4 separate regions of the Homo sapiens genome follow, and regions 1, 2 and 4 are each linked to region 3. The links come from fine-mapping of genetic effects on gene expression. A gene starts in region 3. Each other region holds a variant in brackets. All regions are shown on one strand. Distances are from middle to middle.

What was found. PIP is the estimated chance that this variant, and not a neighbour inherited with it, causes the effect.
Region 1: its variant is fine-mapped to the expression of F2RL1 in aorta (GTEx, PIP 0.98). The same link has a PIP of 0.9 or more in tibial artery.
Region 2: its variant is fine-mapped to the expression of F2RL1 in blood mononuclear cells (TOPMed, PIP above 0.99).
Region 4: its variant is fine-mapped to the expression of F2RL1 in whole blood (TOPMed, PIP above 0.99).

The regions. Positions count from the first base shown.
Region 1 is chr5:76,786,675-76,794,843 of GRCh38, reverse strand. No RefSeq gene overlaps it. Among named protein-coding and RNA genes, the nearest start is that of F2RL1, 28 kb to the left of the region's middle. The variant A/G (reference allele first, on the strand shown) is at 3,874.
Region 2 is chr5:76,845,127-76,853,295 of GRCh38, reverse strand. S100Z (S100 calcium binding protein Z) reads right to left here and starts at 3,282. Exons shown (of 5, transcript NM_130772.4): 1 at 3,141-3,282. The variant A/T (reference allele first, on the strand shown) is at 4,347.
Region 3 is chr5:76,813,877-76,822,045 of GRCh38, reverse strand. It overlaps F2RL1 (F2R like trypsin receptor 1), which reads right to left and starts at 3,016. Exons shown (of 2, transcript NM_005242.6): 1 at 2,782-3,016. The coding sequence starts at 2,863. RefSeq lists enhancers at 2,065-2,682, 2,683-3,300, 6,833-7,487 and a silencer at 2,988-3,282.
Region 4 is chr5:76,835,074-76,843,242 of GRCh38, reverse strand. It overlaps F2RL1 (F2R like trypsin receptor 1), which reads right to left. Exons shown (of 2, transcript NM_005242.6): 2 at 7,928-8,169. It also overlaps the pseudogene RN7SL208P. Among named protein-coding and RNA genes, the nearest start is that of S100Z, 11 kb to the left of the region's middle. The variant T/C (reference allele first, on the strand shown) is at 3,557.

The DNA of each region.
Region 1 (8,169 bases), 27 kb after region 3:
ATTTTAAAGAAAAAAGATAAGCCGGGTGCTGTGGCTCATGGCTGTAATCCCAGCACTTTGGGAGGCTGAAGCCTGCGGATTGCTTGCGGTTGGGAGTTCAAGACCAGCCTGGCCAACATAGTGAAACCCTGTCTCTACTAAAAATACAAAAATTAGCCGGGCATGGTGGTGGGCACCTGTAATCCCAGCTACTTGGGAGGCTGAGGCAGGAGAATCATTTGAACCTGGGAAGTGGAGGTTTCAGTGAGCTGAGATCGCATCACTGCACTCCAACCTGGGCGACAGAGACTCCGTGGAAGGAAGGGAGGGAGGGAGGAAAGGAAGGAAGCAAGGAAGGGAGGGAGACAGGGAGGGAGGGATAAAGATAAATAAAAAAGAAGAAAGATACATAAAAAAGGAGGGCCTTCACTATTATGATACAAGATCAAACTCACCTGAACTTACAAAAAGAATGTAAGGCTGGGTGCCATTGCTCATGCCTATAATCCCAGCACTTTGGGAGGCCAAGGTAGGAGGATTGCTTGAGCCCAGGAGTTTGGGACCAGCCCAATCAACATAGTGAGACCCCCATCTCTACAAAAAATAGAAAAAATTAATCCCAGCTACTTGGCAGGCTGAGGTGGGAGGATCACTTGAACCCAGGAAGTTGAGGCTGCAGTGAGTCGTGGTTGTACCACTGCACTCCAGCCTGGCCAACAGAGTGAGACTCTGTCTCAAAAAAAAAAAAAAAAAAAGGAATTTATAAGATTGTTAAAACAACTTTGAATGGTGGCTCACACTTGTAATCCCAGCACTTTGGGAGGCCGAGGCAGGCAGATCACAAGGTCAGGAGATCAAGACCATCCTGGCTAACATGGTGAAAACCCATCTCTATTAAAAATACAAAAAATTAGCTGGGCATGGTGGCAAGCACCTGTAGTCCCAGCTACTTGGGAGGCTGAGAGAGGAGAATCGCTTGAATCCCGGAGGCGGAGGTTGCAGTGAGCCAAGATCGTGCCACTGCACTCCAGCCTGGGTGACAGAGTGAGACTCCGTCTCAAAAAAAATAAAAAATAAAAACAACTTTGAAAACACAAGTATGCTAATTTACATGTATTTTCTCTCATTTCCCTCTCTCTGCACAGTTAACAATGAAGTCAGCATTCACATTTCTATGGCTTTGAATATATGTCTAGTGTTTTGAAAGAGCAGCTATTTCTAAGATTGTGTTTTAGGATCTGATAATATTGTCAGAGGCAGTTAAACCAGAGCAACTCCATCTTGAATAGGGGCTGGGTAAAATGAGGCTGAAAACTGGGCTGCATTCCCAGATGGTTAAGGCATTCTAAGTCACAGGATGAGATATGAGGTCGGCACAAGATACAGGTCATAAAGACCTTGCTGATAAAACAGGTTGCAGTAAAGAAGCCGAAACCAGCCAGGCGCGGTGGCTCATGCCTGTAATCCCAGCACTTTGGGAGGCCAAGGAGAGCAGATTACCTGAGGCTGGGAGTTCGAGAGCAGCCTGGCCAACATGGAGAAACTCTGTCTCTACTAAAAATACAAAATTAGCCGGGCGTGGTGGCACATGCCTGTATTCCCAGCTACTCGGGAGGCTGAGGCAGGAGAATCGCTTGAACCTGGGAGGCGGAGGTTGTAGTGAGCCGGGATCACACCATTGCACTCCAGCCTGGGCAACAAGAGTGAAACAACATCTCAAAAAAAAAAAAAAAAAAAAAAAAAAGAAGCCAAAACCCACCAAAAATCAAGATGGCCACGAGAGTGACCTCTGGTCATCCTCACTGCTATGCTCCCACCAGTGCTGTGACAGCTTACAAATGCCATGCCAACATCAGGAAGTTACCCTACATGGTCTAAAAAGGAGAGGCATGAATAATCCACCCCTTGTTTAGCATATCATCAAGAAATAACCAGTCCAGTTACAGTGGCTCACACCTGTAATCTCAGCACTTTGGGAGGTCGAGACAGGCAGATCACCTGAGGTCGGGAGTTCAAGACCAGCCTGGCCAACATAGTGAAACCCCATCTCTACTAAAAAAAATACAAATATTAGCTGGGCATGGTGATGGGCGCTTGTAATCCCAGCTACTTGGGAGGCTGAGGCAGGAGAAATGCTTGAACTCGGGACGCGGAGGTTGCAGTGAGCCGAGACCGGGCCATTGCACTCTAGCCTGGGCAACAAGAGTGAAACTCCATCTTAAAAAAAAAAAAAAAAAAAAAGATAAGAAGAAAAAAAACATAAAAATTGGCAACCAGCAGCCCTCGGGGCTGCTCTGTCTATGGAGTAGCCATTCTTTTTTCCTTTACTTTCCTAATAAACTTGCTTTCACTTTACTCTATGGACTCAATCTGAATTCTTTCTTGCGCAAACTCCAAGAACCCCCTCTTGGGGTCTGGATCGGGACCCCTTTCCTGTAACAATATCACACAGAAAGGCAAGCTCAGGAGCCTGGAAGACTTTACTCAGATTGAAAGAATTAACACAGACTGAATTCTCTCTCAAGGGGTGATCCTCTAAGAATTCTTTCCTTTCCTATCATCTTTGGTCAGAATAATTTTTTGCTTAATTGATTTTTCTTATTCATTATGGAACATAGTGGGGTGAGAATAGAATCAAGGAAGCAGGAAGGGAACCATCCAAGGAAGAGATGAAGGAAGCAGACGGGGAAGGGAAGAAGACAGATGGGAATGAAGAAAATGGGCCGGAAAGAGGAAACTGATAAGGAGAAGTGGGGAAAAGAGGCAGTAGATAAACCAGGAGGGCTTGGGCCTTGGCCTAGAGAACTGGTGAAAGAGGCTTTTGTTGCTGTTGTGAAACGGGCCCCATTCAAGTCTTCCCTGCTCCCTGAAGCATCTCCAGCCCACTCTGGTGTTTACATCTTCTGAGTTCTGAATTCTGGTCCAGATCTCTTCCCTGAGCTCCACCCTCATCAATCTGATCTCCACCTTGGTGTCTAGTAGATATCTCCAATGCGTCTGACCTTCCCCAACCCTATGTAAGCTCTATGAGGCAGAGATTTGGTGTTGGTTTGTTCACTGCTGTATCCCAGAAGCATGCTTGGCACCAAGCAGACATTCAATAACTATTAGTTGAGTGGATGAATTAATAAACTCCTGTAGCAGCAACAGGCAAGAGTACACAATATGCTTTTACTGCATTGGAATGCTGATGTTTCCTGCTTGTTTAATTTTCCCAGCAGAACTGCAAAAACCCTTTAAGATCAGGGATGCTGTGCTTTTATATTCCTGTTGGCGTTTAGCACACAGCTGTGCCCATTGGTGATTTGTTGACTGATTAAACAGCAAGTCCCACCAACAGTACAAGCTCATGGCTAAAGCCACCTTTCTCAAAGAGTAGGAATCACATGCTAACTCAAGAAAAAAAATATGTTAATTCATATCCACAAACTTCTAAGCACTTCAGCTTGGGCCTTGTGTCATCTTAGTGGTATAATAGTTTTCCTATGTTTGATTCTTGTCCTCTTTAATAGAGTACGTCTCATTTACACATCTGGATTTTAAGCAGAGTTTTTGAGTCTTACTCTCCTCCTATCAGGCCTTCAGTGGCTCACCAGCACGATGTGAGCACACATGAGAAGCTCAGCCCACTCCTGCCTGTAGGCTTCTGACTTTGATTAAAGATAGAGGCCATGCAGTGCTGGAAGCCCCTTGCATACTATGATACAAATCCTTCAAATCCCTGCTAGGCTGAAAGATGGGGTTCTGATTTGCTGCTAGTGACATCACCCTTCTGGTAACCTTCCTCTCCAGATGTGCCTCTGCTCTGTTTATCTTAGAGCCTCATTTCACAGCAGCAAGAAGACACAACAGGAAGCCAATGTCTGAAGCTGTTCCCATCCATGCCAGTTTCTC[A/G]TAGCCTGTCTTTGACACAAGAGCAGCTCAGAGTCAATTATGTTGGATTCATTCACTAGGAACTTTTTCCCACCAGAGTCCTTGTTGTGGGTGGAGCAGTCTTTTGTTCTAGCTGGTTTGCTGTCTCTGTGGAATTGCTATCAGAATGGCTGTTTGCTATTGGAATGACTAAGAGCTGCATCATTGCTACGTTAGGAAGCAATTATCTGAAAACAAATTCATTTTCTGAGTCATCTAGCCGATTTAGCCTGTGCCACTCTTTCCCCCTTCCACCCCCTAACATTTCACCAGTTAAACAACTAAAATGTCCTCCTATTCATACCTCCTGCTCTATTTGTCAGGAGATTATATATCTGGTTTAGATGGATCAACAGAGTTATTACTTTTCCCTGTGTTACTCAGTCTGTCCTATTCTAATCCTAGATTTATTTTCGAAAGACACATGGTTTTCTGGATTATTTTATCTGGCTTTCACTCCTTTGTGTGCTAGGTGACTAACATTGCACTCATGAGCTCAGCATCCTTGCTTCCTTCTTTCTGCCTTGTTTTAAAGGTATAATATTTTCACATCTTCTTCATATTGCGTATTTGTTTCCTGTGACTGCAGTAACAAATTACCATAAACTAGATAGTTTAAAACAACAGAAATATATTCTCTCACTGTTCTGGAAGCCAGAAGTCTGAAATCTGTATCACTGGTGGAAGCGAGCTGTCAGCAGGGCTGTGGGCCTTTGGAAGGCTCTAGGGAGAATCTGCTTCTTGTCCCTTCCGGCTCCTGGTGGCTGCTGGCTCTCCTTGACATGTGGCCGTATTATTCTAATTTCTGCCTTGGTGGCCACGTTGCCTCCTCTCTTGCTGTGCGTCTAATCTCCCTTTGCCTGGCTTGTGCAAGGACACTTGTGATGGTCCACCCAGATAATCCAGGATAATCTCCCCATGGCAAGATCCTTAAATTAGTCACATACACAAAGCCCGTTTTTCCTTATACAGCAACATTTACAAGTGCTAGGGATTAGGGACTGCTATCTCTGGATGACCATTATTCAGCCAACCACACTTTCAATTCCCTGCTCTCCACAATGCACAGAATATTTTGTATGTAGATTAAAAAGTTGGTGAGGAAGATAAGGGAAGAAAGAGCAAAAGAAAGGAAATAGAGGATAGTCAAAGAGGATTTTTTTGTAATCCTAGCGCTTTGGGAGGCCCAGGAGGGTGGATTTCCTGAGCTCAGGTGTCCGAGACCAACCTGGGCAACCCAGTGAAACCTCATCTCTACTAAAAGACAAAAAAATAGCCAGATGTGACGGCGTGCGCCTGTAGTCCCAGCTACTCGGGAAGCTGAGGCAGGAGAATTGCTTGAACCCAGGAGGCGGAGGTTGCAGTGAGCTGAGATTGTGCCACTGCACACTGTCAGGCTTCTGAGCCCAAGCCTGCAAGTATACATCCAGATGGCCTGAAGCAACTGAAGAATCACAAAAGAAGTGAAAATGGCCGGTTCCCGCCTTGACTGATGACATTACCTTGTGACATTCCTTTTCCTGGACAATAAGTCTCCAGAGCTCCCCACCGAGCACCTTGTGACCCCCGCCCCTGCCAGCAAGAGAACAACCCCCTTTGACTGTAATTTTCCACTACCTACTCAAATCCTATAAAACTGCCCCACTGCTAACTCCCTTTGCTGACTCTCTTTTCGGACTCAGCCCACCTGCACCCAGGTGATTAAAAAGCTTTATTGCTCACACAAAGCCTGTTTGGTGGTCTCTTCACATGGATGCACATGACACACACCAGCCTGGGTGACAGAACTAGACTCTGTCTAAAAAAAGGCCAAGCGCTGTGGCTCATGCCTGTAATCCCAGCACTTTGGGAGGCCGAGGCGGGTGGATCATGAGGTCAGGAGATCGAGACCATCCTGGCTAACACAGTGAAACACCATCTCTACTAAAAATACAAAAAAACTTAGCCGGGTGTGGTGGCGGGCGCCTGTAGTCCCAGCTACTCGGGAGGCTGAGGCAGGAGAATGGCACGAACCCCTGAGGCAGAGCTTGCAGTGAGCCGAGATTGCACCACTGCACTCCAGCCTGGGTGACAGAGAGAGACTCCTTCTCAAAAAAAAAAAAAAAAGAGTGGCCGAGATCGCACCCCTGCACTCCAGCCTGGGTGACAGAGAGAGACTCCTTCTCAAAAAAAAAAAAAAAAAGAGTGTTTTGTTTTTTTTTTGGCTGTGATTTCCTTTTGGCAATAGAGTGGCCCTCCTGGCATGGGCTCCTGCTTCCTGCTTCCTGCTTCCTGGGGAAATATGAGCTTGCAGGAGGTACCCTACTCTGGCAGCCGAAGGACGCACAGACATTCTTTTCCCCTTCTCCTTGGTAGTTGGGGCACTGGCATATGATACCGGCTACACCAATCAGACATTCCTACCCAGGATTTTTGACTTTTGAGGGCATTAGTACCTGCATGTCAGGAGAATGACAGATTGTTTCCAGGGTGGCAGGGTCAAGAGTCCAGGAGCAGCAAGGGCCCGTGTCTGGCGGCTGTGGCAGTGGCACTTGCCTCCTACTCTGACTGTTGCAGTGGCAAGACCTGTCCGAGTTCTTTCTCTGCTTTTTGGTCTCCCCAGGTTCCTGCTCACTCCCCTACCCTTGTTCTCCCACATATCTGCATATTCAGTGACCTGCTGAGTACCCAGCCAGGACATTCCAAATTATTTATTATTATTATTATTTTACGTATTTATTTATTTTGAGATGGAGTTTCGCTCTTGTTGCCCAGGCTGGAGTACAATGGTGCGATCTTGGCTCACTGCAACCTCCGCCTCCCAGGTTCAAATGATTCTTCTGCCTCAGCCTCCCGAGTAGCTGGGATTACAGGCATGTGCCACCAAGTTTGGCTAATTTTGTATTTTTGGTAGAGATGGGATTTCTCCATGTTGGTCAGGCTGGTCTTGAACTCCCGACCTCAGGTGATCTGCCCTCTAAGGCATCCCAAAGTGCTGTGATTACAGGCGTGAGCTACTGGGCCAGACCTATTATTATTATTTGGAGGCAGGGACTCACTCTGTTGCCCAGGCTGGAGTGCAGGGGCATGATCTCGGCTCACTGAAATCTCTGCCTCTTGGGCTCAAGTGATCCTCCCACCTCAGCCTCCCAAGTAGCTGAGACTATAGGCACACACCACTATGCCCCGCTAATTCTTATTTTTTTTGTAGAGATGAGGTTTTGTCATGTTGCCTAGGCTGGTCTTGAACTCCTCGGCTCAAGTCATCTGCCTGTCTCGACCTCCCAAAGTGCTGAGATTACAGGTGTGAGCCACTGCACCTGGCTTATCCCAAATTTTTAGTTTAGTAGGCAGTTAACTTGGCTGAACTCAAATTCTGAATTTTGCCTCCCCCGTGGTGAGTGAACAGCTGAAGCCTCTGTTATTTTAGCCTTATCTGAACTGCTTGGAGTCTACCCTGTGCATGCATAGTTGGAGATCTGCCAGATACTTGGGTAGCCTCCCCCTGCAGCTGGGAACCAGAGTTGTCAGGTGTGCTGTCCTGAGCCAATATATACACATATACAAATGAATTGGCTCATGTAGTTATGGAGGTTGAGAAATCCCAAGATCTGCAGTTGCCAAGCTGGAGACCCAGGGGAACAAATGATGTAAATTCCAGTCCAAGTCCAAGCCCAAAGGCAGAAGCCTAATGTTCCCAGCGCAAAAACAGTCAGCCAGAGAGAACAAATGTTGTTATATTCAGCCTTTTTGTTGTATTCAGGCCTTCAACGATTGAATGAGGCCCACAGACATGGGGGAGGGCAATTTGCTTAACTCAGTCAACCTATAGAAATGTTCATTTCATCCAGAAACACCCTCAGCGTTACACTCAGAATAATGTTTAACCAAATATCTGAGCATCCCGTGGTCCAGTCAAGTTGACACATAAAATGCACAGATAAAATCCAGACTTTTTTTTTTTCTTTTGAGACGGAGTCTCACTCTGTTGCCCAGGCTAGAGTGCAGTGGTGCGATCTTGGCTCACTGCAAGCTCTGCCTCCTGGGTTCATGCCATTCTCCTGCCTCAGCCTCCCAAGTAGCTGGGACTACAGGCACCAACCACCACGCCCGGCTAATTTTTTGTATTTTTAGTAGAGACGGGGTTTCATCGTGTTAGCCAGGATTGTCTCGATCTCCTGACCTCGTGATCCAACCGCCTCGGCCTCCCAAAGTGCTGGGATTACAGGCGTGAGCCACTGCACCCGGCCTTTTTTTTTTTTTTTTTTTTTTTTTTTTGAGATGAAGTTTCGCTCTTGT
Region 2 (8,169 bases), 31 kb before region 3:
CTTGTCCCCGCACAGTCACAAGATGACTGCTGCAATTCCAGGCATCACATCCTCAGACCATCTATGGAGGATTATTTGGAGGGAGTCCAGGCATTTCTCTAGATTTTTCTAAAGTTTCTGAAATTAATATAGCCAGATCAGTAGAAAATTAGGTGTCTGAACTGTATCACATTGGCCCCTCCTAGAATTGTTTAAGCAGCTGTGCTTCAAGGGAAATGCTGCTTGAAGCTGCTAGAATCATCAGCCTTAGACTTGAATCGACTCTGGGATGAATGTTGTTTGAACTTTTCATTCCCTCTCTATGAAGACTCTCAGGGGAAAAATGTTGCTCTGGTTCTTGTGTTGAGAAGAGTCCTGACTTGCCTAAGCAGTCATCCCATGGATACTATGAATAGCCCAGCTGATAAGATAGGATAAGACAGATAATGTATCCTCTTTTTCTTTGGCTGCTAGAAAGCCTAGAATCAAGTTCATGAGCCACCTAGGCCGAATACTTGATTTTACCACATGCTGCAAACTCAAATACCTACAGCCGGGTCATGTTCAAACTTTGCTGTTTTTTGTTTGTTTGTTTGTTTTTTGAGACAGAGTCTCACTCTGTCACCCAGGCTGGAGTGCAGTGCAGTAGCGGGATCTCAGCTCACTGCAACCTCCGCCTCCTGGGTTTAAGCAATTCTTGTGCCTTAGCCTCCTGAGTAGCTGGGATTACAGGTGTGCACCACCATTCCTGGCTATTTTTTTGTATTTTAGTAGAGATGGGTTTTCACCATGTTGGCCAGGCTATTCTCAAACTTTGGCCTCAAGCAATCCACCCACCTCAGCTTCCCAAAGTACTGGGGTTACAGGTGTGAGCCATTACACCCAGCCCAAACTATTTAACAACAGATACAACAGAGGCACTAAGCAGAATGAAAAGCAGTTGTGAACAGGGAGCATCAGCCTGCTTCCACGGCCAGGCTGCTAGTGTAAACAGGCAAAATTGAGACTAAGAAAAAAAAAATATCTTGACTAATTTTTTTTATTACATTTGATAGAAGGGTGAGTTCAGAGAAATAGTCCATGCTGATAAGAGGACCGACACTGCTTCAGTGCCAGACAGCCAAGTGGAGTGGAGGCCAGTGGGAAATTGGAGAGCCCGTGCTCTCCCAAGAAGGCGAGACTGCTTCTCAGACCCAGATCATCGTTGCCAGATGGGATATGGCTCAGAGCTCCCAGAACTTCACTTTTTTTTTTTTTAAAAGAAAAAGTGAGAAATTTTAATTTTTAAGAATTCCTGGATTTTAAGACTGCAACTCAAGACAAACAAACAAAACCCACCAAAACCCAACAGACAAACATAAGACTGCAGGACAACTCAAACAGGAAATTCAGCGAATGCTGGCCAGCTTGTGACTTCTGCTTTCTGCTGTGTACTTTATATTTAACCTCATTCCTTCCTCTACTTTACATCTCGTTCTTTTCTGTCTGCTTTCTCTCCTACTTAATTTATAATATCTTACTCTACTTTGTGTTATCTTCATATGTCACCTTAAATCCTACCTAGGACCCAGGAGAGTATAAATAAACTGACCACAGGACATCTCCACTTAGGTAACACATCAGAGTCTCAGATTCCAAACCACAGCAAACTGATTTTGGCATTTTCCAATCCCCTGCTCCCTTCTTCCTCTACCCCAGAGGGGATCCCCTTTTTTTGCTGCTCCAGTCAACAGCAATACCCTCATTCACCCAACTGCATGGCCAGAAACCTGAGTATGATGCTATTCCTGGCCCCTCTCTCTCTCTCATGCAATCAGTTGCCAGGTTGTATCTCCTCACTCTCTGTTCCTTCCTCCTCAACCCTAGCGCCATAGTTCAGGCCCTTGTCACTTCTGGCCTGAATTACTGCATGAGATCCCAACTCACCTCCTGCACCTACTTTGCTCTTCTTCAAAATTAGCCTCCCCTGCCTGCTGGGAGGCACACCTGAGCTCCTCACTTAACCTCCTGGACAGGCCCTGCCATCCCCTGGCTAAATCTAAACTCCCCGCAGTGTGCCCACCCATCCCCTCTGCACCATCTGTGCCGCACACGTGGCACTGCCACTGTGCTGCCCATTCCTCTGCTCAGGTGCCAGTCCTCCAGGGAAGCCTCCGATGCCCCTCAGCTCCTGGGAGCACTCCGCCTCTGGGTGCCCCTGTATCACCTCATGCTTTCCTCTAGACCTGCACCGGCACTGGGTTGAAGGAAAATAATAGTAGCCAACGTTAATTAGCACATACTCTGGGCCAAGCACCCTTCTAGGCAGTTTAAATGTATTCCTTTATGTCATCCTCAAAAATCCCATGAGGAGGCTGGGGAGCGGTGGCTCATGCCTGTAATCGCAGCACTTTGGGAAGCCAAGTGGGAGGTGGAGGTTGCAGTGAGCTGAGATCACACCACTGCACTCCAGCCTGGGTGACAGAGTGAAACTCCATCTCAGAAAAAAACAAAAAACAAAAAAAACTTTATTTCTCTGTCTAACCCAAATTTTGTGTCCTCTCACCAACTTCTCCCCAGCCCCTCCATCCCTCTTCCCTCTCTTCTTCTGTAGGCTGAGAGCAGCCATTCCAGGGCTGATTGTCCAGGCATGCCCAGCACTGGCCAGTGTGAAGAGGAGGAGCATAGACCACTGCTGTGACTTCCTGGGAGTGGGCTTACACTGGCATCTGTGCAGGCTTCAGGAAAAAGAAGCGAAATCACGGCGTGGATCTAAGGGGCCAAGCCTCACCTTGAAGGTTCTTCTGGGTCTTTGGCCTGGACAAGAACATGAAACTTGAATTTCTCAAGGTGAGGTGAAGGCCAAGCAGGAAGCCAGGATGGTCACCAGGAAAGGAGCCAGAATGAACTAAGTGTTCTTTAGGGCAAGGAACTTACCAGAACCTCTACGCTCCGAGCTATGATCAGGCTGCTCTCTCCCTCTCTCTCTCTCTCTCTCTCTCCCCCACCCCCCCGACCCCTTTGTGGCCAAGGTAAGGCCACATTTTAGAGTGGAAGCCCCAAGGCAACCCCCCACCTCACAACCTCCACTCTTGTTGCCCTCTCTAATCCAACGCCTGCCAGGCTCACACTTCAACCACTAGACTGAAAAGCAAGAATCTTCCACAAAAATAATCTTTTACCTTAGACCTGCTTCCTGTGCAGATGAGATAAGGAGAATGCTCTTGTCTGAATTTCTGGGCGTGGAGATTAGCAAGCCGTTTTCCTCCCAGCAGCTAGAGCGAGCAAGAGGCCCTGCTGTGAGTAGTGCTGTTCTGAGTCTGCGTGGTCCAGACTCACCACACTGCAGGCACGTTTCTTCATCAGGTGGGAAAGCAGGAAGAGGTTTAATTTAGGACCTAAAGCTGGTATATTGCTGAGTAAAAGAAATGGGAAGGCACCAAGTCTCTAACGAAATTGCGCTGGGTGCAGTGGCTCATGCCTCTAATCCCAGCACTTTGAGAGGCTGAGGTGGGTGGATCACTTGCGGTCAGGAGTTTGAGACCAGCCTGGTCAACGTGGCGAAACCCCATCTCTACTAAAAATATAAAAATTAGCCAGGCATGGTGGCGGGCGCCTGTAATTCCAGCTACTCGTGAGGCTGAAGCAGGAGAACGCTTGAACCTGAGAGGCAGAGGTTGTAGTGAGCTGAGCTCGCCGCTGCCCTCCAGACTAGGTGACAGAGCCAGATTCCGTCTCAAAAAAACAAAAAAAAAAGAAAAAGAAACTGCTTGTGATCCAACACTCCCCCACTGGTGCCTCCTCATGGTGAAGAGCAATTACTCTGGCACCAGAGTCTTGGGGTTCAAATCCTTACTTCACCAGTATGTGACTGGAAAAGCTACCTAACCTGCCTGCTGAAGCTTCATGGCTAATAATTCCTCACAGCATTTCTTTTTTTCTTTTTTTTTTTTGAGACAGAGTCTTGCTCTGTCACCCAGGCTGGAGTGCAGTGGCATCATCTCAGCTCACTGCAACCTCCACCTCCCTGGTTCAAGCTTCTGCCTCAGCCTCCCAAGTAGCTGAGATTACAAGCGCCCACCACTAAGCCTGGCTAATTTTTGTATTTTCAGTAGAGATGGGGTTTCACCATGTTGGTGAGGCTGGTCTTGAATTCCTGACCTCAAGTGATCCGCCCACCTTGGCCTCCCAATGTGCTGGGATTATAGGCGTGAGACACTGCGCCTGGCCCAGGAGGAATAAGTTTAAGAGCTCCCATTGTACAGCATGCTATCTATAGTTAATAACAATATATCGTGTATCGAAAATTGCTAAGACAGTAGATGTTAAGTGTCTTTATCACCCCCAAAAAATGACAAGTATATGGGGCAATTAAGTCAAATAGCTTG[A/T]CTTAATAATTCCACAATGTATACATAAATTAAAACATCAAGCTGTATTTGTATACCATAATATATACAATTTTTACTTGTCAATTAAATAAATAAATACACAGAAAAGGGCAGAGACAGGTCAAGAAGCACAGCACTCAGTACAGAAATACAGATAACAATATATTGAAAGAAAGAATTCAAAGATAAATTTTTTTTTTTTTTTTTTGGAGACAGAGTCTTGCTCCATTGCCTAGGGTAGAGTACAGAGACACAATCACAGCTCTCTGCAACCTCAACCTCCCAGGCTCAAGTGATCCTCCCACTTCAGCCTCCCAAATAGCTAGGACTGCAGGGTATGCCACCACAACCTGGCTAATACTTGTATTTTTTTGTAGAGATGGGGTTTCACCATGTTGCTTGCCCAGTCTAGTCTTGAACTCCTGGGCTCAAGTGATCCTCCCAGCCTGGCTTCCCAGAGTGCTGGGATTACAGGCACCAGCCACCGCACCCGGCCAAAGATATGTTCTGAAGATTGAAACGTCTCTCTTTCCAAAATAACTACTCTTGGCCAGGTATGGTGGTGTGCGCCTGTAATCCCAGCTACTCGGGAGGCTGAGGCAGGAGAATTGTTTGAATCCGGGAGGCAGAGGTTGCAGTGAGCCAAGATTGTTCCACTGCACTCCAGCCTGGGCAAGAGTGAGACTCCGTCTCAAAAAACAAACAAAACCCAAAAACCTCTTGACTGGGTGCTGTGCCTCAAGCCTGTAATCCCAGCACTTTGGGAGGCAGAGGTGGGAGGATCACTTGAGCCCAAGAGTTCAACACAGCCTGGGCAACATAGGGAGACACCATCTCTACAAATTTTTTTTTAAAAATTAGCTGGGCATGGTGGTGCACACCTGTGGTTCCAGCTACTCAGGAGGCTGGGGTTGAGAGTATCACTTCAGCCCAGGAGTTTGAGGCTGCAGTGAGCTGTGATTGCAACCACTACTCTCCAGCCTAGGTGACAGAGCCAGACCCTGTCTCTATAAAAGCATTAATTAATTAATTAATTAATTACTAGTCTTTCCCACCTGAAAGTGAAAACTAAGAAGGTCCAAACTGTAGGATTATAGAATGACGGATGTCTGGGGAGATCAGAACAAATCTGCGGAAGAAAACACATGTAATCTGTCTGCATTGCCAGTTTTGGGTGGTGATTCCTGTCCAAGTGTAGCTCCCAAGCACAAGACTGTGGTCTAGGGTCCTGTTCTTCCCTATCTTTAGGAGAACATTAAGATCACCATGAGGCAGGCACCACATAAGAGGGCACAGTGATAAGAATTTTAGCATTCCTCGTTGTTCCTGCTAAGTGCTTGTGAACAGTTGTATAACCAGAGTTCTCGATCGGCAGAGCCTTTTCATTTCCTCTAATATGCTTTCACACTTTCCAGTTCTGGATGCAATCAGCAAAATCCAGACTATGGGGAAAATCTACAAACAACCTGGTTTCTTCAACAAGTAAGTAGCAAGTGGTGAGGGTGGAGATAAATTAAGAGATTTAAAAGTCATCAACCAATTGCAATGTCTGAGCTTTATTTAGATTCTGATTTTTTAAAAAAAGAAACCACTTATGATAATTGAGATGAGTAGAAATTTGAACACTGACAGGATATCTGATATTAAGAAATTTTTTGAGGTATGATTTTTAAATTTCTTGTCTTAGACACTGAAACATTTACGAGTGAAATAATATGATTCCTGAGATTTGCTTCAGAATAAACGGGATGGGGAGGAGGATGGGGCAGAATTGACCAAAGGTTGATGGATATTGGGCCTGAGTGATGGAGACATAGAGTTTCCCTATACAATCCTAATTCTGTATGGGTATAAAATCCTCCATAATAAAGTTTTTAGGGCTGGGCGCAGTGGCTCACACCTGTAATCCCAGCACTTTGGGAGGCCGAGGTGGGCGGATCACTTGAGGTCAGGAATTCTAGAGCAGCCTGGCCAACATGGTGAAACCCAGTCTTTACCAAAAATACAAAAATTAGCCAGGCGTGGTGGTGGGCGCCTGTAATCCCAGCTACTTGGGAGGATAAGGCAGGAGAATCGCTTGAACCCAGGAGGCCGAGGTTGCAGTGAGCCAAGATGGCACCACTGCACTCCAGCCTGGGAGACAGAGCAAGATTCTCTCTCAGAAAAATACATAAATAAATAAAATAAAATAAACAAACAAACATAAAGTTTTTAGGCTGGGCACCGTGGCCTATGCCTCTAATGCCAGCACTTTGGGAGAGCGAGGTAGGTGGATCACTTGAGGTCAGGAGTTCAAGACCAGCCTGGCCAACATGGTGAAACCCCGTCTCTACTAAAAATACAAAAATTAGCCAGGTGTGGTAGCGGAAACCTGTAATCCCAGCTACTAGGGAAGCTGAGGCAGGAGAATTACTTGAACTCAGGAGGCAGAGGCTGCAGTGAACCAAGATCATACCACTGCACTCCAGCCTGGGCAACAGAGCGAGATTCTGTCTCAAAAAAAAAAACACAGTTTTTAAAAAGATTAAAAAAAAAGAATTTCAGTTTTAATGGACAGAAATGGTCACTAGAATAAACACCATCATTTCCCTCCCTGTGCTGCAATTTTTTAAGCCATAAATTCTGATAAATCTGTTATATTTTTAACAAAGTCTCCCATTTACACAAATCTCTGGTTAAAGAAAAAAGTCTGACTTCCACTGGTAAGAACTAGACACAGTTCCCCTGCAAGAGCCCAGGTGGCCTCTGAAAGAGTTCACAACATAAGGCTTGGCTAAAACTGCTTTCTCGGGATTAGGTAATTGAGTCTACCCGATGGTACATAGAAGCTATAATTAAACGCTTTCCATGGGTTTGCCATTCACCCCAGGCTACATGGTGGAGCTGAGGTGAGGAACTCAGACCTGAGCCAGATCCAGCAGTGTTGAGAGTTAATCCCTCATATGCAGGTGAGCTGGCTAGGGCCCAGAGCTGGGACTCCAGGCTCCTGCTGTAGTGGCTGCTGCCATGCCCTCATGTTCTCCAAAAAAGAATGATAGAAAACTCATCAGAGCAAAGGATGTTCCACACGGCACAGAAGTTTTCTGCAGCCCACCTAGAAGAATAGCTTAGGTTTCCTCTCAGAGCTAATACAAAGAGAAATGGGACCAACTTCCCGCAAGGCCGTACCTTTTGAGGGTCACTGCCTTGGTGGTGAGGAATAGCAGGGGGAAAATATGCCTAAAATACAAAGTAAATTGCCGAGACCAGCTCAGTCAAGGAGACCCTAACCCAGTGGCACTAGAGGAATTAAAGACACACACACAGAAATATAGAGGTGTGAAGTGGGAAATCAGGGGTCTCACAGCCTTCAGAGCTGAGAGCCCCGAACAGAGATTTACCCACGTATTTATTAACAGCAAGCCAGTCATTAACATTGTTTCTATAGATATTCGATTAACTAAAAGTATCCCTTATGGGAAATGGGATTAACTAAAAGTATCCCTTATGGGACACGAAGGGATGGGCTGAAATAAAGGGGTGGGTCTGGCTAGTTATCTGCAGCAGGAGCATGTCCTTAAGGCACTGATCGCTCAGGCTATTGTTTGTGGTTTAAGAACGCCTTTAAGCAGTTTTCCGCCCTGGGAGGGCCAGGTGTTCCTTGCACTCATTCCAGTAAACTCACAACCTTCCATCGTGGGCGTTATGGCCAGCATGAACATGTCACAGTGCTGCAGAGATTTTGTTTATGGCCAGTTTTGGAGCCAGTTTATGGCCAGATTTTGGGGGACCTGTTCCCAACAGTAAATAAAGGAAGAAAGCAAAGCTCTATTTCTTCCTAGAT
Region 3 (8,169 bases):
ATGGATGTAATAAAGAGTGGGAAAATATATAAGCCGAAATATTAGCGGTGGCTACTTTGGTACTGAAGTTCAGGGTGATTTAATTAAATGTTTCCTTTTTTTGTTTTGGCTCATTTTTCCCTCGAGTGATCACATATTGTTTTTATAATTTAAAAAACAATTATAGGTAGGGCGCAGTAGCTCATGCCTGTAATCCCAGCACTTTGGGAGGCTGAAGGTGGGTGGATCACCTGAGGTCAGGAGTTTGAGATCAGCCTGACCAATATGGTGAAACCCTGTCTCTACTAAAAATACAAAAATTAGCTGGGGGTGGTGGTGCGTGCCTGTCGTCCCAGCTACTCGGGAGGCTGCAGCAGGAGACTTCCTTGAGCCCGGGAGAGGTGGAGGTTGCAATGAGCCAAAATTGCACCACTGCACTCAAGCCTGGGCAACCGAATGAGAGTCAAAAAAAAAAAAAACCCAAAAAACCAAAAAAACAAAAAAAAACCACCAAACCAATTATAAAGAAAACAGAAGTTCCAGTCTCCAAAAGATAAATGGAATGACCTAGGCCTGTAACATGGTGGAAAAAAATAAGTAAGTGGCAGAGAGAAGCTGACTGAAATGAACACCACATGGACCAGCCAGGGTACTCTGGGCAAGACTCCTCACTTCATTCATTTGCTATTTACTGAGGTCCCGTAGGTGATGAGACTATGCTAGACGTGATGGAAAGGATGGTAGGGCCCCCTGCCTCCAGGAGTTAACGATGCAGTGAGGACACATATTAAGCATGTTTACCCAAATAATTATCAATTACTATTGTAAAGGGAAAGAGAAGCCCTGATTTCCAAGTGTTTTCCTTGCCTTGCCTCCTCAATTCAGTGTCCTTCACCTGTACCCTGAGAAGGTTGTGATCTCGGCTGAGTTCGTTTCTATGAGGCAGTCTTTTGGAGTGAGGCTTTGGGAAGAAAATCAAACCCCAAATCGGCCCTGCAGCCACCTGAGGGGCACGCAGAAGGACCGGCTAAAAAGCGAGTGAGCAAAGACCCACCCTGAGGGCAGAAAAGCTTTGCTAACACTGTATTTCTTATTAAAATCAATTTAGTTTTAAGGTGGGAGGAAAGCTCCATCTGCCTAAATCAATTGTCAGTGTTACTTCACTAACCCTTTGGGAAAGTTACTTTGCAAGGGAATAAAAGTATGGTGGGGGGAGGATGAGGAACAAGGTGCAATATTAAGTGGCTATAGTTAACAAGTAACCTGATTTTTCCTTATTGTTAAATCAAGTTCGCCTTATAATCCAGGGATCTCCCAATCCCCCAAGAGTAGTAAACAAGAACAAGACAAATAATCGGGGCATGCTTCCTACAGGGATCTCTGAATCATAAAGATGTTGAATCAGCTATACCAACATGTATTTTTTTAAAGTTTGCACATACTAACCTTTGCTCCTGAATTTTAAGTTTCCAACTTTAAAGGACATAGAGGAGAGGTGTCCATTACAGTTTTCAATACTTCCTGGAACTAAATGCCTTTATTCTGATGCTGATTAAGAAAAAAAAATATACCAGCGGTGCACAGTTTTCAAGCTTACACCATTAACACCCTTTTCCCTAACTGCAGAGGGAAAAGAATCACATTCTTCCATCTAATTCCAACCCACTGTGACTTGCTCTTTTACTTCGTCTTTATGAAGAGGAGGATAAAAGTGAGAAATGCGCATTTCTGAGGGAAATTAAAAGCTCCCTTTGCTACCCAGGCTGCCCCAAACAGAGGGGCCTCGGTTAGGATCACAGTGGCGCGATCGCAGGTCAAACATCCCCCACGGCCACAGCGAGGCCTGCTGGGCCCGGAAGAACACACTCCCAGCAATACAAGTTCGAGCACACCCGGAGCAGCACATCCAAGGAACGCGACGGCCGGGCGCAAGTGCTGCTCTGTTCCCAGGCCAGCCAGCCTCTGGCCTGCAGACCTGGGTGGCAGCCAGTGGCCGCTCCGGGTGGCACACTAGGAAAGTCCCGGAACCCCAGGCCCAGAGGGTCAACTGGTCAAATATAAGGCAGGGTCCAAAAAGTTCCGCTCGTAAATCCTCGTGGCGCCCAACGGGCCTGAGCGCTCATTACCACCAGAACCCATCAGGGACCGGCCCTGACTTTCATACCCCGGGCCTTCCACTGTGGGTGCCAGGAGCAGCGGGACCCGGGTGGGTCTCGAACGCAGGGGCCAGAACCCGAAGAAAGGCTTCCAGCAGTTGGAGAGGGACGCAAAAAACAACCTAGAAGGCTCCCGGGCCGCGGGTTCCCACCCACTCCGCCCTGCCCTGCGCAATCAGCTCGCTAACCCCACCGGCCCCGCGGGGCCAGCGGAGGAAGTCTCCGGAGTTGGCAAAAAGCTCTTAATGACTTAGTGTTTACAAAGCAACCAAGCCCGGGGAGGGGACTAGGTCCTCTGCGTACCCTTTAGACACAGCTACTCCTTCCTTCCCTCCCTTTCCCCGAACCCACGCTGGGGCCTGGAGGTGCCCAGCATGACAGCCTCTACGGGAAGTGGGGTCTTTGGGGAAATCTCTGCCTCTGCCCGGCTCCGCTGACTTCAGCTGCTCCCGCATGTCCCACCTGGGTGCCTCCTTGGCGCAGAGACCTCACATCAAAGCCACCAAGGGGAGGCTAAGGGATTCGTAGAGATGGGTGCCGGCAGCAGAACAGCCTTCGCACACCTGCCCGGATCCCACCGTCTGCCCAGCGTGCCCAGGACCCCAGCTCCTCAGAGATAAGAGCCCTCCTTGGCCAGGTTTCTCACCTTGGATGGTGCCACTGCAGGAGAGAGAGGCTGCTAGCAGGATGGCGGCCCCCAGCAGCCACGCCGCGCTGGGGCTCCGCATCCTCCTGGAAGCCCCGACGCCGGGCGCGCGGGGAATCCGCCGCCGCCGATTCGAAACTCAGAGCTCCACTGGACGCACCGAGAGAAAGTCAGCCTCTCACCTGCCCCGAATCGGAGCCTCTGCTGCGCGCCTCCCCAGGGCGGGTTAGGTTTCAGGGAAACCGAAGGAGCAGCGTACTCACCTGCGGGAGGCCACGCCCCGGGACCGGAACGCGCGCCCTGGTCCCGCCCCCGGCCCCCTTCCCTGCGCAGCTGCGCCCTCCGCTTCCCGGACTCGCGCCAGGTCCCTTAGACTGCGGGAGCCGCCTGCGGGCGGGGTTGAGCGCATGAGGTGTCTGCTTTGGAATGCAAATAGCAGGAGCGCTGGGACCACGGGTTAATCCCTGCCTAGGCTATACCGCGAACTACCTTTAATCTTTACTTACTCCTAGAGAAGCGGGTCGTCGGTCTCCCTTGCCTTTCCTGACTGTGGGAAAGCCACGATTCGTACTCACTGCAATTGTGGTTGGTAACTGATACAGACAGGGCTTCCCGGTGCGGTGGACCCTGCAGGAGGAGGGATGCGTTTTTTATTGTAGAGGCAGGTGGGCAACTGCGGACATCACGAAAGCGGTGGGGAGCACAAGAGGCGGGGCGGGAAAGAAGACATGGAATGGCTACTTTCAGCGCCAAGTGCCAAAGCTTTAGAGAATTATCTTGCTTAATCCCCATAACAACCAGCGCAATAAGTATGATTATTCTTCCCATTTTACAGACGAGGAAAGTGAGCTTAGAAAGACCAGATAAATTGGCCAGAGTTACACGACTTATAAACACAGTGTATAAATGTTTATCACATTTCAACTCCAGTATAAGACTATCACTGTCTTCTATTCATCGCTGCACTATAAATGCGTCCACCAGGGCTCCTCTGCATTGGGATCCCATAGGCTAAATAAATACAAAAGCAGATAGAAGGGGTGGGAGAAGAGAAGTGTGGGGTTGGGGATGAGTGCATGAGGGTTGGCATCATATTGGTAATGTCTTACTTTTTGTTTTTGAGACGGAGTCTCGCTCTGTCTCCCAGGCTGGAGTGCAGTGGCGTGATCTCGGCTCACTGCAAACTTTGTCTCCTGGGTTCAAGCAATTCTCTGGCCGCAGCCTCCCGAGTAGCTGGAGTTACAGGCGTGCACCACATCTGGCTAATTTTTGTATTTTTAGTAGAGGCGGGGTTTCACCATGTTGGTCTGGCTAGTCTCGAACTCCTGACCTCGTGATCAGCCCACCTCCGCCTCCCAAAGTGCTGCGATTACAGGCGTGAGCCACCGCACCCAGCATGTCTTACTTTTTATTTGCTTTTTAAAAGATTGAATAAAACAAAGTCTACTGTTACCCATTTAAACTATTGGTACCAGAAGAGCACAGAAGAGAGACATAGGTATTTTCAAATATTTAAAGGATTCGCTTGTAGAAGAGGATTTAGATGTGTTTTGAGTTGCTCCAGAGAGCAAAAATTGGTGGAAGCCACAGTGGGGTTTAATTTCAGCTCAATGTATAAAGAAATTTTCTTTATTTTTTATTTTAATTTCTATTAGAAAATAGAAGTGGGGTCTCCCTATCTTGTCCAGTCTGGTCTGGAACTCCTGGCTTCATGTGATCCTCCCCACTCAGCCTCCCAAAGTGCTGGGATTACAGGAATGAGCCACCACACCCGGACAGGCTTCTCCCCTTGTTGACATCTGTGTGATCCCAAGTTTACTTATCCTCTCTAAGCTTTCTTATAATATATATATATATACACACACACGTGGTTTAAAGGTTTATAGGTGTCTGTCTGAGGATAAAATAGTGACTAGTGACTGGGTTTGATACATGGTAGAAGCTCAATAAATATTTTTTGTTTATTTCCTTTCTCTGAGGAGTCTTCATACTCCACCTGCACCCCAGCTCTCACCTCAGCCCATGCCCACTTTTCCTCCCAGGAAAAGCTGACTTCTAGAAGCAGAACAGGAACCTTTGACATCCTGAACAGCGGACAGCTCTCCTGATAGGGATCAGGCCATTCCTGAAGGTCCCTCCCCAGGGGAGATAACTGATTCCTAAGATGTCCCTTCAAACTTTTCAAGCATCCATTTCCTCATCTGTAGCTTATTAATATTACATCTATCATCTGGGAATGATACTAGTACCTCTCTCGTAGGGTGGTTGTGAGGATTCACTTTGCTAAATGTCCATAAAGCACTTCTTAGTACCGTTTCTGGTATATAGTAAGCACCTAAGAAATGGGAACTGCTATAGAATGACTGCCTTTAAGGTGGAATCTTCCTCTTTCAGAGAACAATACATCAGGGTCCAGCTGCTTTCGATTTAAATTTTCACTGTATTTTATGGGAATATGCCTTGAATCATCACAATTTCCAATAAAAGACTTTATTGAACAATGCTATGAGTTAATTATCTCAAAAATGTGGTTTCTTCCCCCAGCCTGACTAAATGAACTAAACTCACTTGAGTCAGTTTGCAGGTGTTTTTCTGTAATTTTGGGAGTATAGTATTTGTTTTTCAGGTGTTGATGACTCCTTCGCCCTGAAGGGATTGGAGTATTGTATGGCTGTGTGGAACAGTACAAAGAAATGACCACAGGCAACTAGACTGCCTGGCTTCCAGAGATTAGGAACCTTCTGCAATCTTCCACCACCTACAATTCCAAAGAGGAGTTTAGACATTGAGGGAAAAGGTATTTCATTCAAATAATTTGTCAAACTCTTCCTGGAGAAACAAAGTCCCAAGTTACTGGGTCCTAATCAAATATAGTTGGAGAAAGTTACACTCATTTATTCACTGATTCATTGAGCACTCACTCTGGACAAGGTTAGTAATGAAATCCACATGGTAAGTCCTATGGTCCTCTTTCAGTCCTTTCTCAGTTACTCAGCCTAGCTGTAGAATTGGACACGATTGATTTCTCCCTCTTTCTGGAATGCTCTATTCACTTGGCTTCCAGGCCCACTCTTCTCTTGATTCTCCATCTGTCGCATTAGCAACTCAGAAGTGGGTTCTTTGCTAGTTCCCACCTACCCTCCTGACCACTATATTCTGGAGTGAGTGCCCCTAGCTTAGTCTTTGGACTTCTTTTCTTTTTTTTTTTTTTGAGACAGGATTTTACTCTGCTGCCCAGGCTGGAGTGCAGTGGCACGATCATGGCTCACTGCAGCCTCAACCTCCCAGGCTTAAGCAATCCTCTCACCTCAGGCCCTGAGTAGCTGGGACTACAGGCACACACCACCAGGCCTGGCTAATACTTTTTTATTTCTTGTAGAGACAGGTTCTCACTATGTTGCCCAGGCTGGTCTTGAACACCTGGGCTCAAGCAATCCTCCCACCTTGGATTCCCAAACTGTTGGGATTACAGGCATGAGCCACTGCGCCCAGCAGACTTCTTTTCTTCTCAAAGTATACACTCATTCCTTTGGTGACCTCATTCACTCCCATGGTTTTAAATACGATCTATATGTTGACAGCTCCCAAATTTCTATTTCTACTCCTGATTTCCCCAATCCAGACATATAGCATATTCATCTAGCTATTCAAAATCCCCCCTTGGATGTTTCTACAGGCATATCAAGCATAAGTCCAAAACTAACTTCCTGATTCATTACACCTCCACTGCCCTTTTCACAGTCTTCCCCCTCTCCTTAAATTACAACTCCATCCTTCCAATTGCTCAAATCAAGTCTTGGAGTCAGGCTAGGTGCAGTGGCTCATGCTTATAATCCCAGAAATTTGGGAGGCCAAGGCAGAAGGATTGGTTGAGCCTAGGAGTTTGAGATCAGCCTGGGCAATATATTGAGACCCTATTTCTACAAAAAAATTGCCCAGGGGTGGTTGTATGCACCTATAGTCCCAGCTATGCAGGTGGCTGGGCAGAGGGATCACTTAAGCCCAGGAGCTCCAGGCTGCAGTGAGCTGTGATTGTGCCACTGCACTCTAGCCTGAGCAACCAAGTGAGACCCTGTCTCTAAAAAATTAAAATTATTTGGCCAGGCACACTGGCTCACACCTGTAATCCCAGCACTTTGGGAAGCCAAGGCAGGCAGATCACTTGAGGTCAGGAGTTCGAGACCAGCCTGGCCAACATGGTGAAACCCCATCTCTACTAAAAATTAGCCAGACGTGGTGGCACAGGCTTATAATCCCAGCTACTCCGGAGGCTGAGGCAGGACAATCGCTTGAGTCCTGGAGGCGGAGGTTGCAGTGACCAGAGATTGTGCCACTGCACTCCAGCCTGGGCAACAGAGCAAGACTCTGTCTCAAAAAAAAAAAAAATTATAAAATGAAAATTAGGCTGGGTACAGTGGCTCATGCCTGTAATCCTAGCACTTTGGGAGGCCGAGGCAGGCAGATCACCTGAGATCAGGAGTTTGAGACCAGCCTGGCCAACATGGCCAAACCCTGTCTCTACTAAAAATACAAAAGAATTTAGCCATGTGTGGTGTCGGGCACCTGGAATCCCAGCTACTCGGGAGGCTGTTCAATCACTTGAACCTGGGAGGCGGAGGTTGTGGTGAGCCGAGATGGCACCATTGCACTCCAGCCTGGGCAACAAGAGCAACACTCCATTTTTTGCTCCAAGAACAAAAAAAGGAAAAGAAAACAAAAATACTAAAGTGCTTTCCACTTCCCTCTGAGTGAAAACCAAAATCTATCAAAGGTTTACACATCCTGTCCCCTCTTCCCCATCCACACACACACACCACCTCCTTGATGTTATCGCCTGTGATTCATATCATCATCCTGCTCCAGCCATGTATGCCCCCGTCATTCCTTTGCACTCAGTATCCTTTGCCTGGAGTGATTTTCCATCAAGCAGCTCTTGACTCATCTCTTTAAAGTGTTAGTTTACTTAGAATTATAAATCACTGGAGCTGCAGGGGTCCTTATAAGCCAGAGTAGGCCCTTACTCAGCCAGCATCTCTTAGCTTGTTGGCAGTGAGGCTAAGGTGTCTGGATGGTAGGCAAGGAGTGAATTGGTCATAGTGGTCGCTCATCTACACAAAGGCCTTCTAGACCCAAAGAAATAATCGCTCATGATAATCATTTCAGGCATTAGTGGTCAACTATTATCTAGTGTTATGGTTTTTGGGGTTTTCTACTTTGTAGATTTTTTTTTTCATTTGATCAAAAAATGGGAATTTTATTTATTTATTATTTTTATTTTTTGAGACAGAGTCTCGCTCTGTCACCCGGGCTGGAGTGCAGTGGCACAATCTCGGCTCACTGCAACCTCCACCTCCCGGTTCAAGCTATTCTATTGCCTCAGCTGTCTGC
Region 4 (8,169 bases), 21 kb before region 3:
AAACCTCTGCCTCCTGGGTTCAAGCAATCCTCCCACCTCAGCCTCCTGAGTAACACTGGGACCACAAGCGCATGCCACCACACTGGGCTAATTATTTTTATCTTTTGTAGAGATAGGGTTTTGCCACGTAGCCCAGGCTGATCTCAAACTCTTGAGCTCACATGATCCTCCCACCTCAGCCTCCCAAAGTGCTAGGATTACAGGTGTAAGCCACCGCACCCAACCTCCTACTCAACAATGCTGCTTGGATGTCTAACAGGCATCTCAATCTCAAGATGCCATGGTCAAAACAGAACTCTTAACTTTCAACCTCCAAACATGCTCACTCCTAATTATTTCACCATTATCCATCAAGCAGAAACTCTAGGCACAAGCTTTGATTCCTCTTCTTTTCACATCTGTTGACTTTAGGCTTCTTCTCTCCCTCTCTGTTAGCACCACCCTAATTCAAGCCAACATCACCTCTTGCTTGGATTACTCCAAATTGTTCTTGCTTTCTCATCTTGTCCTTCTATAATCCCTATTCCACATAATAGCCAGTGATTTTTTTCTTTTTTTGAGAGGGAGTCTCGCTCTGTCACCCAGGCTGGAGTGCAGTGGCATGATCTCAGCTTACTGCAACCTCCGCCTCCCGGGTTCAAGCGATTCTCCTGCCTCAGCCTCTTGAGTAGCTGGGATTACAGGTGCACACCACCACGCCCAGCTAATTTTTGTATTTTTAGTAGAGACGGGCTTTCACCATGTTGATCAGGCAGGTCTTGAACTCCTGACCTCGTGATCCGCCTGCCTTGGCCTCCCAAAGTGCTGGGATTAAAGGCGTGAGCCACCGCGCCCGGCCACCAGTGATTTTTTAAATGGGCAGTAAAACAAACCTATGGCATCCCATGTAGAAAGAAAATCAAGCTCCTTACTCCCTTACAGTTCCCTTCAGTTATCAAGCTCTTGCCTCTCTCCAGCCTACTTGCTCATACTCTTCCTTCCCTTACTCATTCCCATAAAGCCCTTGCTTGGGATCCTCCCATGGCTGGCTCTCCTGCCCTTTACATTGCCACTTAAATTTCACCTCCTTAGAAACCTTCCCTGATCTCCCAATATAAAATACTCTTAGCATTTACTACTATTGGATATTTTGTTTTGTTTTCAGTCTTTCTCCAATCAGAAAGTAAACTCCATGAGAATAGAGTTCTTGTCTATTTTGTTCTCCACAATATTCCTTACTGCCTAGAAGATGACTTGGCACATAGTGCGTGGTGGAAGAATATTGAATTAACAAGTATGTACAGATTTCCACTCAAATATTATTTATATAGCAATATAAGTATAGCATAAGCTGGATTCCATAAATTATGGTATATGTGCACATGGAGATAGCCATTTAAAATAATGAGGTCAATCTGTAAATGCTAACATGGCAATCATATCCAAGATGTGTTCACGTATATAATGCAGAAACCAGCCTCCCATGTAATCCCCAGTGATCCTCGCCTCCTGGTGTTTATGCTAGGTAGTCTTCTCCCAGATTGAATTGGAGCTAGCTTGTCTGACCAAGCAATTGGAGCTAGCATGGTGGAGGTGATGGTGTGTGACCTCTGAAGCTAAGTAATGAAAGGCATTGTGGCTTTCCCCTTGTTCTCATGGATCACTCATTTTGGGGAACACCAATCTTCATGTTATGAGGTCAGTCCAACAGCCCTGTGAAGAGGCCCACGTGGAGGGGAACTGAAGCTTTCTGCCACCAACATGCCAGCCCTGTGGAGGATCCTCCAGCCCCCGTCACATCTTCAGCTAGCAGCAGCTCCAGCCAGTATCTTACCTGGTACCTCATGAGATCCTAAGCCAGAACCATTGGGCTAAACTGCTCCTGAATTCATAACCCACAGAAACTGTGAAAGTTAGTAAATGTTTATGACTGTCTTAAGACACTAAATTTTGAGGTAATTTATGTGTAATTTAACTAATACATGGTGTAACTCCTTTTATTTTTAAAAAGCATGTATACATGTTTATACATGCATAAAAACATCTCAAAGAATATACAGAGGGCGTATAAACGGGTTCCCATGTGGTGGGTAGGGAGGGTGTTCATTTCTCATTATATACTTATACTCTCAGATTTACTTATTTATTTTAGCTACTCAATAGGTATGGGTTTTTTAATTTGCATTTTTCTAATGACTAAGGCTAAGCATCTTTTATGTTTCAATATGCCTATTTGCCATCTATTCTATTCTATTCAGTTCTTCTTCTTTTTATTTATTTTTCATTTTTTAGAGATGAGGTCTCACTATGTTCCTCAGGGTGGGGTGTAGTAGCTACTCACTAGTGTGATCATGGCTTCGTGGCTCACTGCAGCCTTGAACTGCTGGGCTCAAGCAATGGTGTAAACAAAGCAGTGGTTAGGGGGGTAAGCCATAGTAGTGGCCCTTCTGGAAACTTCTTGTCCTTCACATTTACTTTGACTTTCTGCCTGTCTCAGGATCTAGCTCTGGAATAAGCTATGCTTTAAAGGCTTTTGAGAAGCCCATATACTGGAGGGTTAGGTTTCTGGGGTTTGTGTTTTTTTTTTAAATATTGATGTATTCCACTGAGAGAACATCAACCCCTCAACTGGATAGCTGTTAAGGTGGAAATCCTAATTTAATTATTTGCATTTAATAATGCAGTAATGTTGCAATGAATGTTTGTGGAATTGTGAACCCTGAATATTTGAGACAGGTCTCAGTTAATTTAGAAAGTTTATTTTGCTAAGGTTGAGGACACATGCCCGTGACACAGCCTCTGGAGGTCCTGACGACATGTGCCCAAGGTGGTGTGAAAGGAAAATATCTTGGGCCCCCAAAATCACTGCGCTAAAAGTTAAAAGTCAAACTGGAAACTGCACAGGGCGAACCTGCCTCCCGTTCTATTCAAAGTCAACCTCCACTCACTGAGATAAATGCATATCTGATTGCCTTCTTTGGAAAGGAAGAAACTCAAAAGAATGCAAGAGAGTTTGTCTCTCACCTATCTGTGACCTGGAAGTCCCTTCCCTGCTTTTCTGGTCTTTGCTTCAAGTTATCCCGCCTTTCCAGACCAAACCAATGTACATTTTACATATATTGATGTTTCATGTCTCCCTAAAATGTGTAAAACCAAGCTGTGCCCTGATCACCTTGGGCACATGTCGTCAGAATTTCCTGAGGCAGTGTCACAGGCATGCGTCAACCTTGGCAAAATAAACTTTCTAAATTAACTGAGAACTGTCTCAAATGTTTAGGGTTCACAGTGCTCAGAGCAGTTTGGTTTTACACATTTTAGAGACACATGAGACATCAATCAACGTATGTAAGATGAACATTGGTTCGGTCTGGAAAGGCAGGACAACTTGAAGCGGGGAGGGGGCTTCCAGGTCATAGGTAGATGAGAGACAAACAGTTGCATTCTTTCGAGTTTCTGATTAGCCTCTAGAAAGGAGGCAATCAGATATGCTTTTTTTTTTTTTTTTTTTTTTTTGAGATGGAGTCTTGCTCTGTCACCCAGGCTGGAGTACAGTGGCGCAATCTCAGCTCACTGCAAC[T/C]TCCGCCTCCTGGGTTCAAGCGATGTTCCTGCCTCAGCCTCCCAAGTAGCTGGGACTACAGGCACCCAGCAGCATGCCCGGCTAATTTTTTTTGTATTTTTAGTAGAGACGGAGTTTCACCTTGTTGGCCAGGCTGGTCTCGAACTCCTGACCAGGATGGTCTCGATCTCTTGACCTCGTGATCCGCCCACCTCGGCCTGCCAAAATGCTGGGATTACAGGTATGAGCCACCGCACCCGGCCCAGATATGCATTTGTCTCAGTGAGCAGAGGGGTAACTTTGAATAGGAGAGGCAGGTTTGCCCTAAGCGGTTCCCAGCTTGACTTTTCCCATTAGCTTAGTGATTTTGGGGCCACAGGATTTATTTTCCTTTCACAGGATGAAGGATTGAACCACTCACACTGCTGCTGGGTTCTTGATGGGCCCGCAGGCTTGGGCTGTGGTTTTTACCGGAGGTTGTCTGTAACTCTGGTCAGGCTTAATTTCTCACCAATAAAGACAAAGGCTGGGAAACAGTCCATAGATTGACCCACTGGTAGAGGCAAGAGCAGTTCATACTCAAATCACGGAATATTTCAAACTGTCCCTCCAGAGAGGCATTCCAAGGTTGGTCTGAGTCACTCTAATTGTTGACATTTAAGTGGGACAATCATCTCAGTGAAGTTCCAAGGCTTGAATAAAATGTAGGGCTAGATCCCTGATCACTAAGGGCTTGGTTTTTGTCTTCAGAACTGGGGGTCAGGAAAGGACTGGCCACATCAGAAACTTCTTTTTGAGAAGACATCTAAACACCCAAGCAAAAACTTATCATTTTAATCAAGATCCGGAGGACAGCAAGTACTACCTTTGATTCTGCAATAAATTATAGTCCTCTCAGGGGCCTCCAAAGGGTTAATGTTTCAGGAACAAAGTTGTAATCACTAAACTATGCATACTGATGAGATTATAGCCCTAAAGTTTATGAAACCTTGATAACCAGGAAATTAATTACAGGTTTGAAACTCCTGCTGCAAACCACTGAGGTGACACGTTAGGAAAAAGCCCATAAAACAACTCCAGCCGAGTCAGTTTAGCACTGGCCTTTGTCCTGAGCATCAGGACTGCAAATCTTCGTTCACTTTCAAATTAAGAGGCCTCACTGTTAGTACATAAGCCTGTGGAGTTCAAAGTATTTACATTTTCAGACATTTTAGGACTCAGTTTAGAGAAATTAGACCACAGTATGACATATAACACAAGAGCAAAGACAACCACATCCAAGGTACTACTCCGCTAGGGCCAGAGTTCCTCATGCTTCCAATCAGGAGCCTAATTCAGATAGACCAGGGGGTTTTCTAAGCCACTTTTCAAAGGCAGAACAAAACGATTTGAAAAGCTTTTGCTGGGCCAGGCGCGGTGGCTCTCACCTGTAATCCCAGTACTTTGGGAGGCCAAGGTGGGTGGATCACCTGAGGTTAGGAGATCGAGACCAGCCTGGCCAACCTGGTGAAACCCCGTCTCTACTAAAAATACAAAAAATTAGCCAGGCATGGTGGCGGGCGCCTGTAATCCCAGCTACTCAGGAGGCTGAGGCAGGAGAATCACTTGAACCTGGAAGGCAGAGGTTGCGATGAGCTGAGATCACACCACTGCACTTCCAGCCTGGATGACAGAGCGAGACTCCATCTCAAAAAAAAAATAAGCTTTTGCTTTAGCAAATAATTTTAATTTCTCAAATCATTTCTTTTATACTTTTTTGTTTAGTTTTTTTTTTTTTTTTTGAGACAGAGTCTTGCTCTATCGCACAGGCTGGAGTGCAGTGTCCCGATCTTGGCTCACTGCAAGCTCCACTTCCCAGGTTCATGCCATTCTCCTGCCTCAGCCTCCCAAGTAGCTGGAACTACAGGCGCCCGCCACCACGCCCAGCTAATTTTTTGTATTTTTAGTAGAGACAGGGTTTCACCATGTTAGCCAAGATGGTCTCAGTCTCCTGACCTCGTGATCCGCCCGCCTCGGCCTCCCAAAGTGCTGGGATTACAGGCGTGAGCCACCGCGCCTGGTTCTTTTGTACTTTTTAATGTAGATTCAAAGGCTTGGTGAAAATAAACCAAGAAAAATATCTGTTCTTTAATAGGTACTTCTGACTAAATGTTGGGTCATTCATACATGAAATACTACCTGGTCATTAAAAATAATGAGAAACAGGCAGGGCACAGTGACTCATGCCTGTAATCACAGCATTTTGAGAGGCTGAGGAGGGAGGATCTCTGGAGTTCAACAGTTTGAGACCAGCCTGGGTAACATAGCAAGACCCTGTCTCTACCAAAAAAAAAATAAAAATAAATTAATGAGAAACAGTGAATGAGTTAAAAAAATTATGAGGACAATTTATATAAACTGATTTAGAAGTTAAAGTATATATGTATGTACACACATTCATACACATTTATTCTTAAAGTATAGCCACAAAAAAGAGATTTGCATAGTTACAAAAAGAAAAAAAAAGACTATAGCCAGGAGTGTTGGCATGTTCCTGTAGGCCCGAGCTAATACGGAGGCTGAAGCAGGAGGATGACTTGAATCCAGGAGTGTGAGGCTGTAGTGGGCTATGCTGATCATTGTCTGCACTAAGTTCAGCATTAATATGGTAACCTCCAAGGAGAAGGGGACCACCAGGTTGCCTAAGAAGGGGTGAACCAGCCCAGGAGGGAAATGCAGCAGGAAAAACTCCCATAGTGATCAGTAGTGGAATCACACGTGGAAATAGCCACTGCACTCCAGCCTGGGTAATAGACCGACACCCTGTCCACCCCCCACCAGAAAAAAAAAAAAAAAAAAAAAAAACCAAGAAATGACAAACACCAAAAAAATGTTCTCCACTGAGGTGGAGGTCAGCTACAGATGGCCTTCGGGGCTCTGTGAGCCATTTGTTCCTGCTCCCTTTTATCCTGTTCCCACCATTTTCTCATTTCTCACCTGACAAACGGGGACAACTTCACAGGCCTGCAATCAGACTCAAAGCAGAACAGGCAAAGAAAGCAGTGACACTGAAGTGAAAGGGGGCAGAGCAGAAAACAGGTCTTGTCCACAGAGCATAATAATAATATTATTTAATATTTGTGACCACATAAACGTGCCAAATAATTTTATTCTCATAACTTTATGAGGAAGATACTATTATCCTAATTTTACAAGTGAGGAAACTGAGATACTACTATCCCCATTTGACAAATGAGTCGCATTTTTTTTCTTACTTCTTGAGGTAATAAAAACATCCCTAATGTAAGCAGTGATGGAGTCAGAATTCAGCACAGCCCAGGACCTGCACTCTTAGCCACCAGGCTGTGCTGCTTCTTCAGTAAAACAACAATAAGATTGGGAAACCAAAGATTGATAGCATGGAATGTGGATGAGCATTTCAGGAAACAGGTGCAAATATACCATTTTGGTAGAAATATACATTACTGAAGACAATTTGGCAAGACTTATCAAAACCTAAAATGAGCATCTAACTTTTGAGCTGGCCATTCTACTTCTAGAAACTTATCCTCAAAAAATATGCTCACAGATGTCTGTATACAGATATTTGATACAGCACTTTTTTTTTTTTTTGTAGAAAACAAAAATGGAATATTTATGCGCAACTCAAAAGAAACACTACGCATATAAGGTAAGAGATTAAATATAAACACGGCAAGTTCCATCCCATTCCTATTTCTCCAAGGCTGCATGACCAAATGGAATCTTGAAGAGAACACCTAGATAACAGAGGACCTGTCAGCGACTCTGGACTTCTGGGTGCAGCACTGTTTTAAAAGTCAAAAAAAGAAGGGTGGGGGGATGACAACCTAAGGAGCCGTTGGTAGGGAATTAATTAAATACATCACAATATACCCAAAATGTTAAATAGCCTGTATCCTTGAAAAGCGGTCAACCTACAGATGCAGGTATAGAAAGAATTCTAAAACTTTTTTTTTTTTTTTGAGACGGAGTTTCGCTCCTGTTGCCCAGGCTGGAGTGCAATGGCGCAATCTCGGCTCACCGTAACCTCCACCTCCCGGGTTCACGCGATTCTCCTGCCTCAGCCTCCCGAGTAGCTGGGATTACAGGCGTCTGCCACCACGCCCAGCTAATTTTCGTATTTTTAATAGAGACAGGCTCTTGCCATGTTGGCCAGGCTGGTCTTGAACTCCTGACCTCGGGTGATCCACCCACCTTGGCCTCCCAAAGTGCTGGGATTACACACGTGTGCCACTGTGCCCGGCCTCTGAAACATTTTTAAATGAAAAACCGTTGTCACAGAGTTTGGTGTGAGTGTCCACTTTTAGAGGGGTGAAGCTGTTGCCTGCCTTCTCTCACTCCTTCCCTCAAAACAAACGCACAACTCAGAAATAAGTTGTAAAAAAAATTTTGTTATTTATAAATCAATTACACAATAAAATAATTATTTTTAAAAGTCACAAATACAATCGTTGTATAAAGTCATTTTGGCATCAAGTATCTCTTAAATATGTTGCAAACTATTTTCCAAAGAGATGTGGTCCAAACCCTCTGAAGGCTTTATAATTTTGTATTAGATAACAAGTGAACAAAACTGACAATAAATACTCCAACAATTATTTTTTAAAATACTA